Linked DNA regions of Homo sapiens. The protein of the gene in region 4 interacts with the protein of the main gene of each other region in a pairwise test. Each region holds a gene or a part of one and is shown on either strand. Other genes may lie near its edges.

What was found.
Region 1: the proteins of RTN3 (region 4) and ZNF391 interact in a two-hybrid assay, tested with the Homo sapiens proteins (one large-scale study listed by BioGRID).
Region 2: the proteins of RTN3 (region 4) and GLP1R interact in a protein complementation assay, tested with the Homo sapiens proteins (one study listed by BioGRID).
Region 3: the proteins of RTN3 (region 4) and RAB33A interact in a two-hybrid assay, tested with the Homo sapiens proteins (one large-scale study listed by BioGRID and IntAct).

What each region holds. Positions count from the first base shown.
Region 1 is NC_000006.12:27,387,557-27,391,619, reverse strand, and holds the start of ZNF391 (zinc finger protein 391), read right to left. Parts: upstream 2,862-4,063; 5' UTR 2,545-2,861; intron 1-2,544.
Region 2 is NC_000006.12:39,055,249-39,058,816, forward strand, and holds part of GLP1R (glucagon-like peptide 1 receptor precursor), read left to right. Parts: intron 1-1,148; coding exon 1,149-1,245; intron 1,246-2,223; coding exon 2,224-2,331; intron 2,332-3,568.
Region 3 is NC_000023.11:130,174,932-130,178,499, forward strand, and holds part of RAB33A (ras-related protein Rab-33A), read left to right. Parts: intron 1-3,568.
Region 4 is NC_000011.10:63,687,972-63,691,539, forward strand, and holds part of RTN3 (reticulon-3), read left to right. Parts: intron 1-3,568. UniProt on the Homo sapiens protein: May be involved in membrane trafficking in the early secretory pathway. Inhibits BACE1 activity and amyloid precursor protein processing. May induce caspase-8 cascade and apoptosis.

The DNA.
Region 1 (4,063 bases), on a different chromosome or scaffold from region 4:
TTGCCTTTCCATCTTCTGCCTCCTCTTGGTTTTATTTTTAATGAAAGGCAGAAATGGGCAAAGGTCATAGTCCAAGGCATCCAGAACCTCTGTCTAGTAATGTCCACATCTAGCCTGTTGAATGCAACCCTAAGGATTAAGAAGTAATGATTGGGAGGCCAAGACAGGTGGATCACCTGAGGTCAGGATTTCAAGACCAGCCTGGCCAACATGGGGAAACCCTGTCTCAACTAAAAATACAAAAAAATTAGCTGGGCGTGGTGGTGGGCACCTGTAATCCCAGCTACTTCAGGAGGCTGAGGCAGGAGAATCGCTTGAACCCAGCAGGCGGAGGTTGCAGTGAGCCAAGATAGTACCATTGCACTCCAGCCTGAGCGACAAGAGCGAAACTCTGTCTCAAAAAAAAAAAAAAAAAAAAGTACAATGAATGCCCCAAAGTAATCCCATCTCCTCTCAGATATAAAGAAAATGACAATGGACAGTTATGTCTGGGTTTCAAGTTCATCTTTTATGATAAAAGACAGATCTGAGCCAATTCCAAACTTTCTCTAAACCCTTTAGGTGATCCAGCCTCTTTGACGTTCTCTTCATATGGGGTATGAGTTCAAAGACACTATGGCACTAGTCCCCTTACTTCTTCCTGAGGGTCAAAATAGAAGACAGATGACACTGCTTACAGCTGCACTTCCTTGGTCAAGTCACTTTTCTGAAAAATCTCGTCCCACATTATAAAACACCATTACTAGCATGTGCTTGTCTTTTCTTACAAAACTTTCATCAATACTGCAAGTTAAACTATGGCAAAACATTTACAATAAAGAATATCATATATAGTATAAGGGAGATGATGCTATTGCTGTGCTCATCTCACATCAATGAATTTGAAAACTGTGATGGTGTATGTTTAAGGAAAGATGCTGTCAGAGGATTTATGAGTCTCCCTTCAGCAGCTGCTGCTCTAGAGCATGGAGAGATGCATTCTTTTTCCTGGCTTTGGAGGATGTATGTAAGATGGGAAAAGGAAGTCTAGCGGATGTGACAAAAGTTTCAGGGATAGCCCCCAAACATATTTCAGAGATGCTAGGAGGTTAGGGCTATACCTTTATCCAGAGTCCATCCAAGGGATTCCTCCACCATAATGTGGAAAGTTGCCTCTCCTTTTCTCCTTTCTTCCTCATACTTTCATTATTTGAGTCACCTTACTGCTCTCTGGATACTGTATCCCTACAAAATCATTATTCTCTTAAGTGGTCACAACATGCTGCAGCCCTAGCCAACCTGGTGGTTTGCTATTCCTTTATGTGACTCAAACTTTTTAGCACTAACAGCGCTGGCCACCACAGTTACCCTAATTATCTAAAATTCTTTTGACATTGCTTGTCTCTCCTATAATCAATTCCTGATCCAGGGATAATTCTCCTTTATTTTCTACCCCCTTCAGAAGGAAGAAGGTTTTGAAGGGTCAGGAATAGGGCTTCTCTGGGTGCTTTGTTTTGTGGCACTAGGTTGATTGCTTCCTGGAGCCTTTGCCAATCCACAAAGCAATCAGCAGAACTGCCTGGGCAGCCTCAGTTTAATCACAGAATAGAGAAAATCTTGTCCTACCAAAGGTGATCTTCAGGTAACAATGTTCCCAGATATTGGCTCAAAGCACAAACTCACACATAAAGCACAAACTCAATGATCCACAGTAACTGTCAATACACCCACAACAAATAATTAACAACTACTTTATTCAAGTACCAACCTTCATCATCAGAAACATAAACTAAGGACTGGCACTCAAGCAAGTACTTCTCTTTTTTGGGGGGGAGGGGCGCGGAGTTTCACTCTTGTTGCCTACGCTGGAGTGCAGTGGCGTGGTCTCTGCTCGCTCCAACCTCTGCCTCCCGGGTACAAGTGATTCTCCTGCCTCAGCCTCCCGAGTAGCAGGGATTACAGGCGCGCGCCACCACTCCCACCTAATTTTTGTATTTTTAGTAGAGAACGGGTTTCACCGTATTGGCCAGGCTGGTCTCGACCTCAGGTGATCCGCCCGCCTTGGCCTCCCAAAGTGCTGGGATTACAGGCGTGAGCCACTGCGCCCGGCCAAGCAAGTACTTCATCTCTGTGTGCCTCAATTTCCTTATCTGTAACATGGGCATAATAATAGTACATTACTTCATAGGGTTGATGCAAGGATTAAATGAGTTAATGCAGGTAAAAACTCTTGGAGCAGTGCCTGCACTCAGTAAGCACCTGGGAAACACCCCAGTACCGAAGACCTCCCTCGCCCAGCTAGAGGGGAAGCAGGGAGCAACCCTGCTCTTTTTCATCTCCCAGGGATACACCCGGGGAAAACCACTGGCTGTCACTGCCGCAGAGGGACTAGGCTGGCCCGCCAGTGAGACGAGCGCTGGGGGCTTCATGACCCCACGCCACGCGGCGTCCCAACCGTGGAGGTGCCTCCTGACCCGACCTGCAGCCAAACCACACGCGACCCTTTCGCCCGTTTCCTTCGAAGAACCCGTGTTTCCGCTTTCCAGAACCTCTAAGAGCACCCACCTTGGTCCCGGGGCCCTGTAAGCCTCACTCACCGGCCGCCTCCGGCCGAGTACCCCCGACACACCCCGGGCGGGTCCCGCACTTGGAGCGGAACCTGAGTGCGCTGGGCTTGGGGAAGTCGGAAGGATTAAAGAGAAACCCATGCGTCGAACCGCTGCTCCAACGCCCATCAGGTTCCCTAAGATCACAGGCACTCTTCCACTCAGACTGCTGCTGATCATGCTCTGCTCGGTATGCGGGACCAGTCATTGTCTGGGCAGTCGCCTGGACCTAAGTCTCCTGACGCGGACGACCAGTTGCAAAACAGAGACCACACTGAGACTGAGCAACGTATCAGCAGCGGTCGCAGCTCTGCGCTTGCGCCTGAGAGCCAGCTACAGCAGGGCTGTGCTGGGATTCACTTTCGTGGAAGGTTTTGCAAAGCCCCTCCCCTGGTATGCGAGAGGCTGAGAGGTTGGCGCTAGAGGCAAGAGGAAGGGGGTCTGCGAGAGGTGCCGAAGACCACCTTAATACACTGCAAAGTATAGCCTAGACCGGTGGTTCACAGAGTTTTAAATAGCGTACACAAATAAATCACCAAGTGAGCTTGTTAAAATACAGCTTCACAAGATTTACACTCCGAGATTGACTCGTTGGCCCGGAACATTGCATTTTCAAGGGGCACCCCAGATGATTCTGATGCAAGTGGTCTCTCCAGCCTGTCTGGAGAAACTGGCTCCGTTGCACAATCTAGTTGCTTAAATACTGTTAAATGCAAGACATGTCTCAAATTTCACCAAAAGAAAAAAATGAATAAAATCAGGACACTACCCTAATCTAGTAGATTTTTTAAAATTCCAGATAATTTTAATATAAGGTAATGAAGTTGCACAATGTGCCCTGGGAGTTCAGAGCAGGGGAAACTTATGGAACGAGGGACACTGGAGTGGTTTGACTAATGGAAGATTTAATGGAAAACATAAAGGAGGGCAACCTTACAAATAGTTGAGGAACTAGAAGAGTGGAAAGCATGTGCAAAACTGCAGGTCTGATACATGACAGCTGTGCACAAGTACCATAGAAACATCAAGTAAGTATAAAGCATGAGCCATGAAGTACAAAGGAGCAGGATCCAAATTATAAAGCTGGAAAGAATTAGATAAAGTCTAATTTTATCATTTCCTATTTTTAAAAATTAAAAACACTTTCAAACTGTGGTAAACTATGCACAACATTAAAGTTACCATTTTAAAGTCATACAGTAAAGTTTTTAGCGTATTCACAACAGCACCGTCACTATCTAATTCTAGAACATTTTCGTCATCCCTAAAGATGCCCATTGAGCAGTCTCTATTCCCTGCTCCCCACAGTCCCTGGTAACCTTTATTTTACACTATGTTTCTATGAATTTGCCTGTTCTAGATATGCCATATAAGTAAAATAATACAATATTTGTCTATTTATGTCTGGATTATTTTTAATTAGCATAAAGTTTTCAAGGTTCATTCATACTGCAGCATGTATCCTTCATGCCTTTTAA
Region 2 (3,568 bases), on a different chromosome or scaffold from region 4:
TTCAGCACACGTGGACATTTTTGTGATTTCAAAAAGCAAAATGTTGTTTTAAATTATGTATGGGTCCTACATTTTATACATGGGGCTCTTGGGTCATTTCAGCATCTGCAGCCTCTGAAGGACGAATATTTATAATTTTTAAGGCTGTTCAGGAAAAAACTAAAAAGAACGACAACCCCAAGACATAGCTGAAGGAAGTGCACAAAAACACTCAGAAGGAATGGTGGATTCTCAGTGGGATGGGTCTGTTTGGGTCTGTGTGCTGAAAAGCCATTTCGGTGACCTCACTGGAAGTGGAGGCTCAGCTCTCCCTACTCACAGGTGAGAGGGATCCCTCCCATTGCACGTGTGACTTCAGTGTTCTGGAACCTCCCTGACCCCTTCACCTCATGTCCTCAGGACTCTTCCTTTGGGTGGATAGAAGCTGGGTTGAATATTAGATTTGGTTGCTGTGTCAGAGGGGAGCACGGGGAGGGGGTGGGGGGTGCTGTGTTGAGTGCATCTGTAAGTGAGTGCGTTTTGGAGGAGGAATGCTAATGGCAGACATCCCAGCTCTTTGTAGCCCTGAACGCCACTACTCTCCCCGGCCCCCGCACACCTTGCGATATTCTACCATGGTCACTGATCTGAAGGACTCCAGATTCTAGCCTTAACTCTGCTTCCTGGGGGGGCTGTGCACCCTTGATTCAGTTCCTCTCCCACTCTGGCCTGTGTGTCTTCTTCTAGAATGGTTGAAAGTGCAAGAAGCCCTCAGGCAGGCTGACTAGGCGCCAGAAGGAGCTTAGAGTCCTGGGCCCTCAGAAAGTCTCTCTCCTAAGTGAGATCAGAGATCACAAATGAGACACACACGCTCCTTTCCTCCTTCACCCACCCACCTCCCCAAAAGCATCAATTTAGCAGACATTTGCTGGGTGCTCGTGACACATCAAGCTATGCACCCTGGGAGGAATGAAGATGTCAAACCATCCACCTGGGGCCCCTGGGTGGCAGTGACTTATTCTCACTCTCTTTCAGAGGTGGCTGATGCCTGGCAGAATTTGGGGCTTTGAGGTTTCATGGAGATTGAGAAACCAAGTGTGTTAGGGGGTGAGGGGGCAGGAGAGGGGCTGGCTGAACCCACAGGCCTCCCATATATGCCCTCCCCCCAGGGTGCCACTGTGTCCCTCTGGGAGACGGTGCAGAAATGGCGAGAATACCGACGCCAGTGCCAGCGCTCCCTGACTGAGGATCCACCTCCTGCCACAGGTGAGTCCATGTAGGCTCCCCACCTTTAGTGCTCCCCACCCAACCAACTTCTGGAGGACTTTGATGAACTCAATGTCCATGGCTGGGAGCCATTTGCCTCTATAGGATGCCACCCCTGCCCTCTGCCTTCATCTCATTGTCCAAGCTACTCCTTCACCTGGATACCTTCCTTTCTGCCGACCAAAATCTTCCTTTTCTTCAAAGTCCGCGGAAGCACTGCCTCCTCCAGAAAATCTTCCCCAGGACTTCTGCCATCATTTGGCCCTTACTCGTTTGCTGTAGTCTGCTTTGGGGTTGCTGTCTTATTTCTGTCTTAGCTGTCTTATCTGTGTGTCCTTCCCTGCACCGCCGGCCAGCCCCCCAGCTAGAGCCTCTCAGAGCAGGCACCCGGCCTTTCCATTTTTGTCCTCAGCACCTCCCAGCCTGTGCATGGACTGAGGGCTCCACAAACATATTTATAGGAATAAATGTTTCAGGGAGTTCACAAGGTGGTTTAAAGAGCACGGGATTGGAGCCCGCTGGGCCTAGGTTGAAATCCTGACTGTAATTATAACACGTGACCTAAAGAAGGTTATCTTAAGTGAGATCAGAAGGAAGGTAAGCTAACATTTCCCTCTAATCTGTGAAGTGCAATTTAAGAATAGGCCCATAGGGATTTTTCATTGAGCACGTACTATGTTCCATTATCTATGTAGCATATAGTCTTGATCCCACAAAACCCTATGGGGCTGGAAATACTCCTGTTTTACAGATCAGGAAACAGACATTAAGTTACTTGCTCAAGGTCCTGCCACTGATAAGTGGCAAGTGCCCCTGCTTGGCTCTTGCTGGGTGGGGAAAGTGCTTGGCATACAGTAAGCATTCAGCAGAGGTTAGTGGCATGCAGCCTCCGAGGAGGGGAGGGGTCTTGGGGAAGGGAGGGAAAGGGCCATGGCCAGTCACAAGCAGGGACTCAGAGACTGTTCTTTCTGCTCCCAGACTTGTTCTGCAACCGGACCTTCGATGAATACGCCTGCTGGCCAGATGGGGAGCCAGGCTCGTTCGTGAATGTCAGCTGCCCCTGGTACCTGCCCTGGGCCAGCAGTGGTGAGCCCCCTCCCCGACCTGGTACCTGCCCTGGGCCAGCAGTGGTGAACCCCCTCCCCGACCTGGTATCTGCCCTGGGCCAGCAGTGGTGAGCCCCCTCCCCGACCTGATACCTGCCCTGGGCCAGCAGTGGTGAGCCCCCTCCCTGACCTGGTACCTGCCCTGGGCCAGCAGTGGTGAGCCCCCTCCCTAACCTGGTACCTGCCGTGGGTCAGCAGTGGTGAGCCCCCTCCCTAACCTGGTACCTGCCGTGGGTCAGCAGTGGTGAGCCCCCTCCCTGACCTGGTACCTGCCCTGGGTCAGCAGTGGTGAGCTCCCTCCCCCACCGTCCCCTGTATCGAGGAGGCTGAGGTCAAGGCGCTGCTTCCTTTCCTCTGAGACACAGCCCTCCCCACCCAGAATGTCTTTAGGCCTCCTAGTGAGTGGTCCGCCTGCCTTTCCTGGGGTGAGGGGAGCAGTCAGTAGTGATAAGTTTCATGATGGCCTGAGGTACCACCTGGGTCTGGGCGTGAGGCCAGTGCTGGCCAGTGTGTGGGGAAGGGAAAGTAAGTGTCTGAAGAGAAATGCGACCCCTTCCAATTCAGTAGTCAGGAAAAGAGCTGGGTGGGGACAGACTCTTGCGGGGAGGGAAGCTACCCAGGGTGTCTGCTGTGTGTATACATGTATGTATGATATGTGTATGCAGGTGGCCCATACCTGGCAGTGACATTTAGCTACTTCCTCACTCTTTAGAGGTTCACTGGGAGAAGTGATCAGGGCATTGGTGGGGTGACGAACCCCACCAGACTCAGCCCTCCTCAGCTCACTCCTGCCTGCAAGGGGGACCTTGTACTGGGGAAGATGTGACTGGGTAGGTGGGAAGGTCATTTCATTGGGGGTACAGAGATTTGCAGAGGCTGCAAGAGGATCCCTGACTGGAGGGTTAGTTAATGTGCCCCGCTATCTATCCCAGCCTCCCTTGCTGAGCCCAGTTTCACCCAGGCACCGTGGAGGATAACAGGAGACAAGCACCCTCATGGCAAGGAGCTCCCAGTCTCCATAAGGGGAGAAAAGATATTTCCCTATCATCATCATCATCATCATCATCATCACCATCACCATCATCATCGTCATCATAGCCAGCATTTATTGAGTACCTACTGTGTGCCAAGTCCTGCCCTAAAAGCAGGGCTTTATAACTACCCTGTGGTTATACCTGCTGTACAGATGAGGAAACTGAAGCACAAAAAGTTTAAGT
Region 3 (3,568 bases), on a different chromosome or scaffold from region 4:
ATTTACAATTGAGTCCTGATGAACTCAATTGTATGAACATCAAGAAAAGCCTCCAATGAGTAGGCAATAATAATAATAATAATAACAACTATGTATTGAATAAGCAAAGAGCCCAGGCTAGGCACTTTACATGCATTATCTTATTTACTCCTCACAGCAGCTTTATGAAATCAGCAGTATTGTTATCATTCCCATTTTATAGATAAGGAGACTGAGGCTAAGAGAGATGAAATAACCCAGTGGCACATGGATCTGAGCTTCAGCCTTTGACTCTTGAGCCCAAGCACTTCGCCACCTCACTATCCTACCTTTCCTGTTACAGGGCCACGATTTCAACCCAGATTCAGAGACCATGCCCTTTACCACTGCATTTCACTCTACAGGACAATATTCAGTCCCCTAGATTGGGGGAGTTTGACAGGGGGAGATAGAATGCCAGGCAGCCAGTCTTGCTCTTTCTTCTAGGCCAGGGACTTAGGGTTATAGCCCAAGGCCCCCAGGAGCCTTTCAGATGTCTCCTTCAATTTGTATCCAGGACACACAGAACTCAACTGGGTTTACTTTTTTTTTTTTTTTTTTTTTGAGAGGGAGTTTCACTCTTGTTGCCCAAGCTGGAGTGCAATGGCACGATCTCAGCTCACTGCAACCTCGGCCTCCTGGGTTCAAGCAGTTCTCCTGCCTCAGCCTCCTGAGTAGCTGGGATTATAGGCACCTGCCATGATGCCCAGCTAATTTTTATATTTTTAGTAGAGATGGGGTTTCACCATGTTAGCCAGGCTGGTCTCGAACTCCTGACCTCAGGTGATCCACCTGCCTCGACCTCCCAAAGTGCTGGGATTACAGGCGGGAGCCCTGGGTTTACTTTTTGCACCTTGATTATCTCAACTCAGGTGTGAGATGCAGAAAATGTTCAGAGATAAAAGAGATGTTACAGATTCTGTGATCCAGTGTCCTCCTCTTGCAGATAGGAAACTGAGACTCAGAGAGGGAAAGTGACTTGCCCAAGATCACACAGGGCCAGGCCTAGAACTCATGTCTCCTAATTCCCTTTCTGGTGCTCTTTCCACACATCATGCTGCCTGGCACAAAATCCTCTCTCCAGCCTAGCTCCATGGTCCATCCAACCCACAAGGCCACCTATGACAAGAATCCAGAGGGACATCATAAGAGATAGCTGACAGTCTTTCCTGACATCAGCCTAGGAAGGGTGGAGGCATCCCCCAGCCCCCAAAGGAAGAGTGGAGCTTCCCTTAATGACTATGATGTGTCTGTCACCTACAGATGTAGCTAAATTTATTGAGTCTGTCTCCTAAATGCATTGGAAAATGCCGAATAGGGGTGTGTGTGTGTGTGTAGAGAGGGAGGGTATGTAGTAGAGGGGAGGCTAAGAAACTAATTTTTGAATCATTCTTTGTATATTTGCATGGAAGCTTCACTTCTGTCTATAATAGTTTGGTTCCTCCCACAGGCTGGGCACTCCCTGTGCCCCAGCCCTGGGGACAAGACAAACTGCAGGTCAGCTGTGGCTATGGGCAGGTACAGCTCAGGACTGTGAGTTTCTGTTCCTCTACTGATCACTGGGGGAAAAAAAATACCTTCCTGTGTTACATTATCAAGTGGATGGAGGCTGAGCTAAGTGTTCCTTGGAAGCTGCCTGCAGTCAGAATGACATCATTTCTTCCTTAGGGCTTCTGAGCTTCTATCTTCTGCCAGTTAACTTAATGGTTAATTATCCATCAGTGTAAGTTTCTCTGTCTCCCTTGCTGCTTCTTTCTGTGTGTGAGTTTCTCTTTGTCTCTGTCCTCCTTTGCCATTCTCTGTGTCAGCTTTGTGTGTGGATCTTAGATGCAGATGGGACAGTCCAGCTAGTTGAAAACAGGTTTCTTTTAAACTTTTCCCATCATCCACTGGGGCATGCTCCAGAGGTTACAGATGTATTTGTCTCCTTTTTTTGCACTTCTACCCTCCCCCATCGGCCTCCAACAAAAGCACATTCATGCCTCATCTATAGAAAGATGCCAGTTAATGTTTCCTAGGGAAAAGAAATCCCCCTGTCAGCTAAGAGCACATGCAGGGGGTTGGGGGCTTGCTGAAGCTCGCCCAGAAAATAGTTCAAAAGGTTAGATATCTCTTTGGCAGTTCCCCATGCTGTGCCCCTCCATCCTCCTCCAGCACCCCATCAGTTCGGGCCTGCCCCCGGCCACCCATGGCATGTTGCCAGTATTCCTCTCTCCACCCCCTCCCCACTGGATGGCCTTTAGCTCTGTCTCACCTTCGAGAAGCCAAGCTTTCTGTGATTTCCAGGATGAGAGACCAATGGACCCAAGGAACCATACCAACAGGAGAGGGCTTGATGGCCTTTCTGAGACCAGAGCAACAACTAATATTTGCAGAGTGCTTGACATTTTCCAAAAGTCCTTTCTCATGTGTTATTTCACTGGATCATCCCAGCAACCATAGGAGGATCAAGGTCCCATTGCAGAGATGAGAAAAACAAGGCTCAGTTCAGGGAGGTTAAAAGACTTGTCTGGCATTTACTCAGCTTCTGAGCAGAAGAGCTGGGATGCTTGCTGCCTTTCCAACAGTGCTTGCTCAAGTTGTTGCCCATCTAGACTTAATGGTGGAGGTTTCAGGCCATGAAAGAAGGGAGAGTGTATATTAGGCACTGGGTCACATACTTACAAGGACTACTAATCCTCATAGCATCCCTACCTGATTACTATTGTTATCATCACTTTCCAGATGAGGACACTGAAGTCAGAGAAAGTAACTTACCTAAGGACACCTAACTTATCTAAGGACACCTAACAAGTCATGTACTAACATGACTTGGGCCGAGATCTGCACCCAAGTTGATTTGACTCCACTATACCCCATTGGCCATCTGACAGAAACAAGGATCTGGGGTACATGTATGTGGCTGTGGCTAAGAGGCAGTCTTCACCCCCATCCACTGTATGGATATGGTGCCCACAGGAAAGGAGGAAAGGGTGAGAGGAGAGGCAGCTGCGAAAGAGGAAGGAGATGCTTTCACTGCTTGGCAGGGGCCAGGGGTTTATGAAGATGCTGAGAAAGGAACACCTAACTCTCAAACAAAATGAGATCACTGCTAGGTAAGGTGGCTTGCCAGCACTTTGGGAGGCCGAGGCAGGATGATTGCTTGAGCCCAGGAGATCCAGACCAGCCTGGGCAACATAAGGAGGACCCCATCTCTATGAAATAAAAAAAATATGAAAATTAGTTGGGTGTGCTGGTGCGTGCCTGTAGTCCCAGTTACTCCGAAGGCTGAAGAGGGAGGATTGCTTGCGCCTAGGAGGTTGAGGCTGCAGTGAGCCATGATTGCACTGCTGCACTCCAGCCTGGGTGACACAATGAGATCTTGTCTGGAAAAGAGAGAGAGAGAGAGAGAGAAAGAGACCAGGCGTGGTGGCTCACACCTAGAGTCCCAGCACTTTGGGAGGCCCAGGTGGGCAGATCACTTGAGCCTAGGAATTTGAGACCAGCCTGGGCAACATGGGGAAACCCCATCTCTACAAAAAATACAAAAATTAGCCGGGTGTGGTGGTGC
Region 4 (3,568 bases):
TCCACTGAGGTGGTCTGTTAAAGAGGTAGAGGGAGGAGTCAAGATGTTTCCCAGAAGGCTTGGCATGAATCAATATGCTTAAATACTTATGCAGATTCTGACTAATAAATGTTGTTATGATACATTAGGAAACCCCTTTCAGCACAGAGGCAAGCATACAGGAGACAGCAAGAATGGTCATGTCAATATGGCCTGCAAATGCCTGCTGACTTGGATTGTTTTTATTCTCCAAGAATAAGAAGTGTGTTTTGCTTTTTTTTTTTTTTTTTTGAGACGGAGTCTCGCTCTGTCGCCCAGGCGGGAGTGCAGTGGTGCGATCTCAGCTCACTGCAACCTCCATCTCCCAGGTTCATGCCATTCTCCTGCCTCAGCTTCCCAGTAGCTGGGACTACAGGTGCCCACCACCACGCCTGGCTAATTTTTTGTGTTTTTAGTAGAGACAGGGTTTCACCATGTTAGCCAGGATGGTCTTGATCTCCTGACCTCATGATCCGCCAGCCTTGGCTTCCCAAAGTGCTGGGATTACAGGCGTGAGCCACCACGCCCGGCCAAGAAGTTTTTTTTTAATGCTGTTTTTGTTTATTGTCAAATTCACAAGTAATGGAACCACTCTGATCAAATTAAACAACCAATCTACATACATTTAGTAGGTGCACCCTTACCCTAAATTGTCATTTCTAAGGGGTTGTTCATTAAGTGGCTGGTAAGAACCTCAGTGTTTTTATTCTTGGTGTTTTAAAGATGGGCTGAAAATAAAAACCAATATTACTGCTTTTATCAAATTATCCTGTGAGGAAATAATATATTTATCCTGATATAGGAGTTACCTGTCTAGTCCTGTGCATGTTTCAAGCCTTGTAAAATGAAGTTTGGTCATGAAGGAATTGGTGACGTCTGGTTGAAGGGAAAAGGGAAAGTTGAGCTTTCCAATTTTGTTTGAGTCAAGAGTATATTTTGCAGAAAGACACTTCTCTTTACCCATAATCCTAGAATTTACCATTTTTGTAATTCTGAACAGAATTACAAAGGCTTCATTAAGTAAGTAGGTTTTCTAATATAAATGTGCATATTTGTTGTGTGCACTTAGCTTATAGTTTGTGTTAACTTTATTGTTGATGATGAATTTAGCCTCCTAAAGTATACAAACTTGTGAAAAATTCATCAATTTTGTAGTATAACTTTTTCTCTTAATTTAGCTAATACTCTTTGTATTGTTCTAATTTTGGTATATGTGCTGCTGAAGTAAGCACTCATAGTAAAACTTTTTAGACAAAAATTAGCAGGTCGATATTTTGTTCTTATAATTGACTTATTCAGAAGTTGCCCAGAAAACTGACTTAACCTTCTATTCTGTTCATTTATGACAGCTACTAGTTGTAGAGTTATTTTGGATCATAGGGTATGGTGTTGATGTTTTGAAAGAAGTGTGTGTGTTAAATAAGTTTAGCTGTAATCAGTATTGCTTGTGATTGCATCATTGAAGTCTTCTGGGCATCTGTGAGTTTTGTAAGACATGTTACTCTGTGATATTGCAACCTCAGAGAGAATCTCTTTAAATACTGTAACGGGGTTTGCATTTCCATTTTACGTATGGGAGAAGATTATCAGCAAGTGGCCTGCTCTTGTGATTTTTTTTTTTTATTTCAAATAACTATTCTTACCTGTTTTCTCCAATCAACTGATTTATTATCTCCTATAACCATATCATTGTAACCTAACCAGAGAAGACAGTGAGCTTATCAGCAAGTGGCCCACTCTTGTGATTTTTGATTTTTTTTTTTTTATTTCAAAGAACTATTTTTTTGAGACAGAATCCCCCTCTGTTGCTCAGGCTGGAGTGCAGTGGTGGGATCTCTGCTCACTGCAACCTCCGCCCCCCGGGTTCAAGCGATTCTCCTGCCTCAGCCCCCTGAGTAGGTGGGATTGCAGGCTTGTGCCACCATGCCCAGCTAATTTTTGTATTTTTAGTAGAGATGGGGTTTCACCATGTTGGTCAGGCTGGTCCCGAACTCCTGACCTCAAGTGAACTGCCCCCGCCTCGGCCTCCCACAGTGCTGGGATTACAGATGTGAGCCACCACACCCAGTCTCAAAGAACTATTCTTACCTGTTTTCTCCAATCAACTGATTTATTATCTCCTGTAACCATATCATCATAACTTAACCAGAGGGAACGGTGAGCTTTTTGACCTGTTCCTCATTGGTAGCTCGCCCTTCAAGATATATGGAAGGACATTCTGGAAAACCTTTTGTTATGAAAATTGTGTCCTGTTATTTGAACATATTTCAGTGGAGGGCATTGTCTTTATTTTACGTATGAGATAGAAGTACTTGATTTTCACGATATCTTACATTTGTGTACTGCTTTATGATTTAAGTTGTGCCCATATGTTACCTTAATTCAACAACTGAGCATACATGAAGGCTCTTTGCCAGGTGCTGTGGAAGACAGAAAGGTAAATAAAATATAGATCATTCCTCTAGAGGCCATATTCTATAGAGGAAAGACTTGTATTATGTTTATCTGTGAGGTAGACAGGTAGCGATATAACCCCCTTCTTACAGATGGGGACTCAGGCACAGAGAGTTTAATGCCCACGCTTTAAGATTTGAAGCAACATGTAGTAAAAGTGGCTCAGTTACCCTTTTGAATTCAGTGATCAGTTTAATTTAAAAGTCTTAATTTCTGGCTCCACGGTTCTTAAGCCAGGTGCCTTTTTATTTCACTGCTCTACAGAAACTTTCTAGTCAAGTTCACCAGATATTTTCCACATTGTTAAATTCAGTGGTCACTTCATCCTCCTCTTAACATGCTTTCACAACAGCTTTTGACATAATTGATTATTCTCTCCTTGAAATGCTTTTTTAATTTGTCTTCTGTGACACCACATACTCACTCTCACTGGCTTTTCATCCTCTGTCTCCATAAAATTCACCATTTTAAGGTGGGTTTTAGTGTATGCACAAGGTTGTACAGCTATCTCCACTATCTAATTCCAGAACATTTTTATTACCCCAAAGAGAAACCCCATATCTGTTAGCAGTAATTCACCGTTCTTCCCTCCCCTCAATTCTCTGACAACTATTAATCTGCTTTCTGACTCTGTGGATTTCCTTATTCTTGAGATTTAATATTGCTAATTCTTTTTTTTTTTTTTTTTTTTTTTTGAGATGGAGTCTCACTCTGTCACCCAGGGTGGAGTGCAGTGGCACGATCTCTGCTCACTGCACCATCCGCCTCCTGGATTCAAGCGATTCTCCTGCTTCAGCCTCCCAAGTAGCTGGGATTATAGGCATGTGCCACCATGCCCAGCTAATTTTTGTATTTTTAGTAGAGGCAGGGTTTCACCATGTTGGTCAGGCTGGTCTTGAACTCCTGACCTCAGGAGATCCACCCTCCTTGGCCTCCTAAAATGCTGGGATTACAGGTGTGAGCTACTGCGTCCGACCTAATTATTTTTATTTTGATAGAGACGAGGTCTCACTATGTTGCCTAGGCTGGTATTGAACTCCTGGGCTCAAGCGATCCTCCTGCCTTAGCCTCTCAAAGTGCTGGGATTATAGGCATG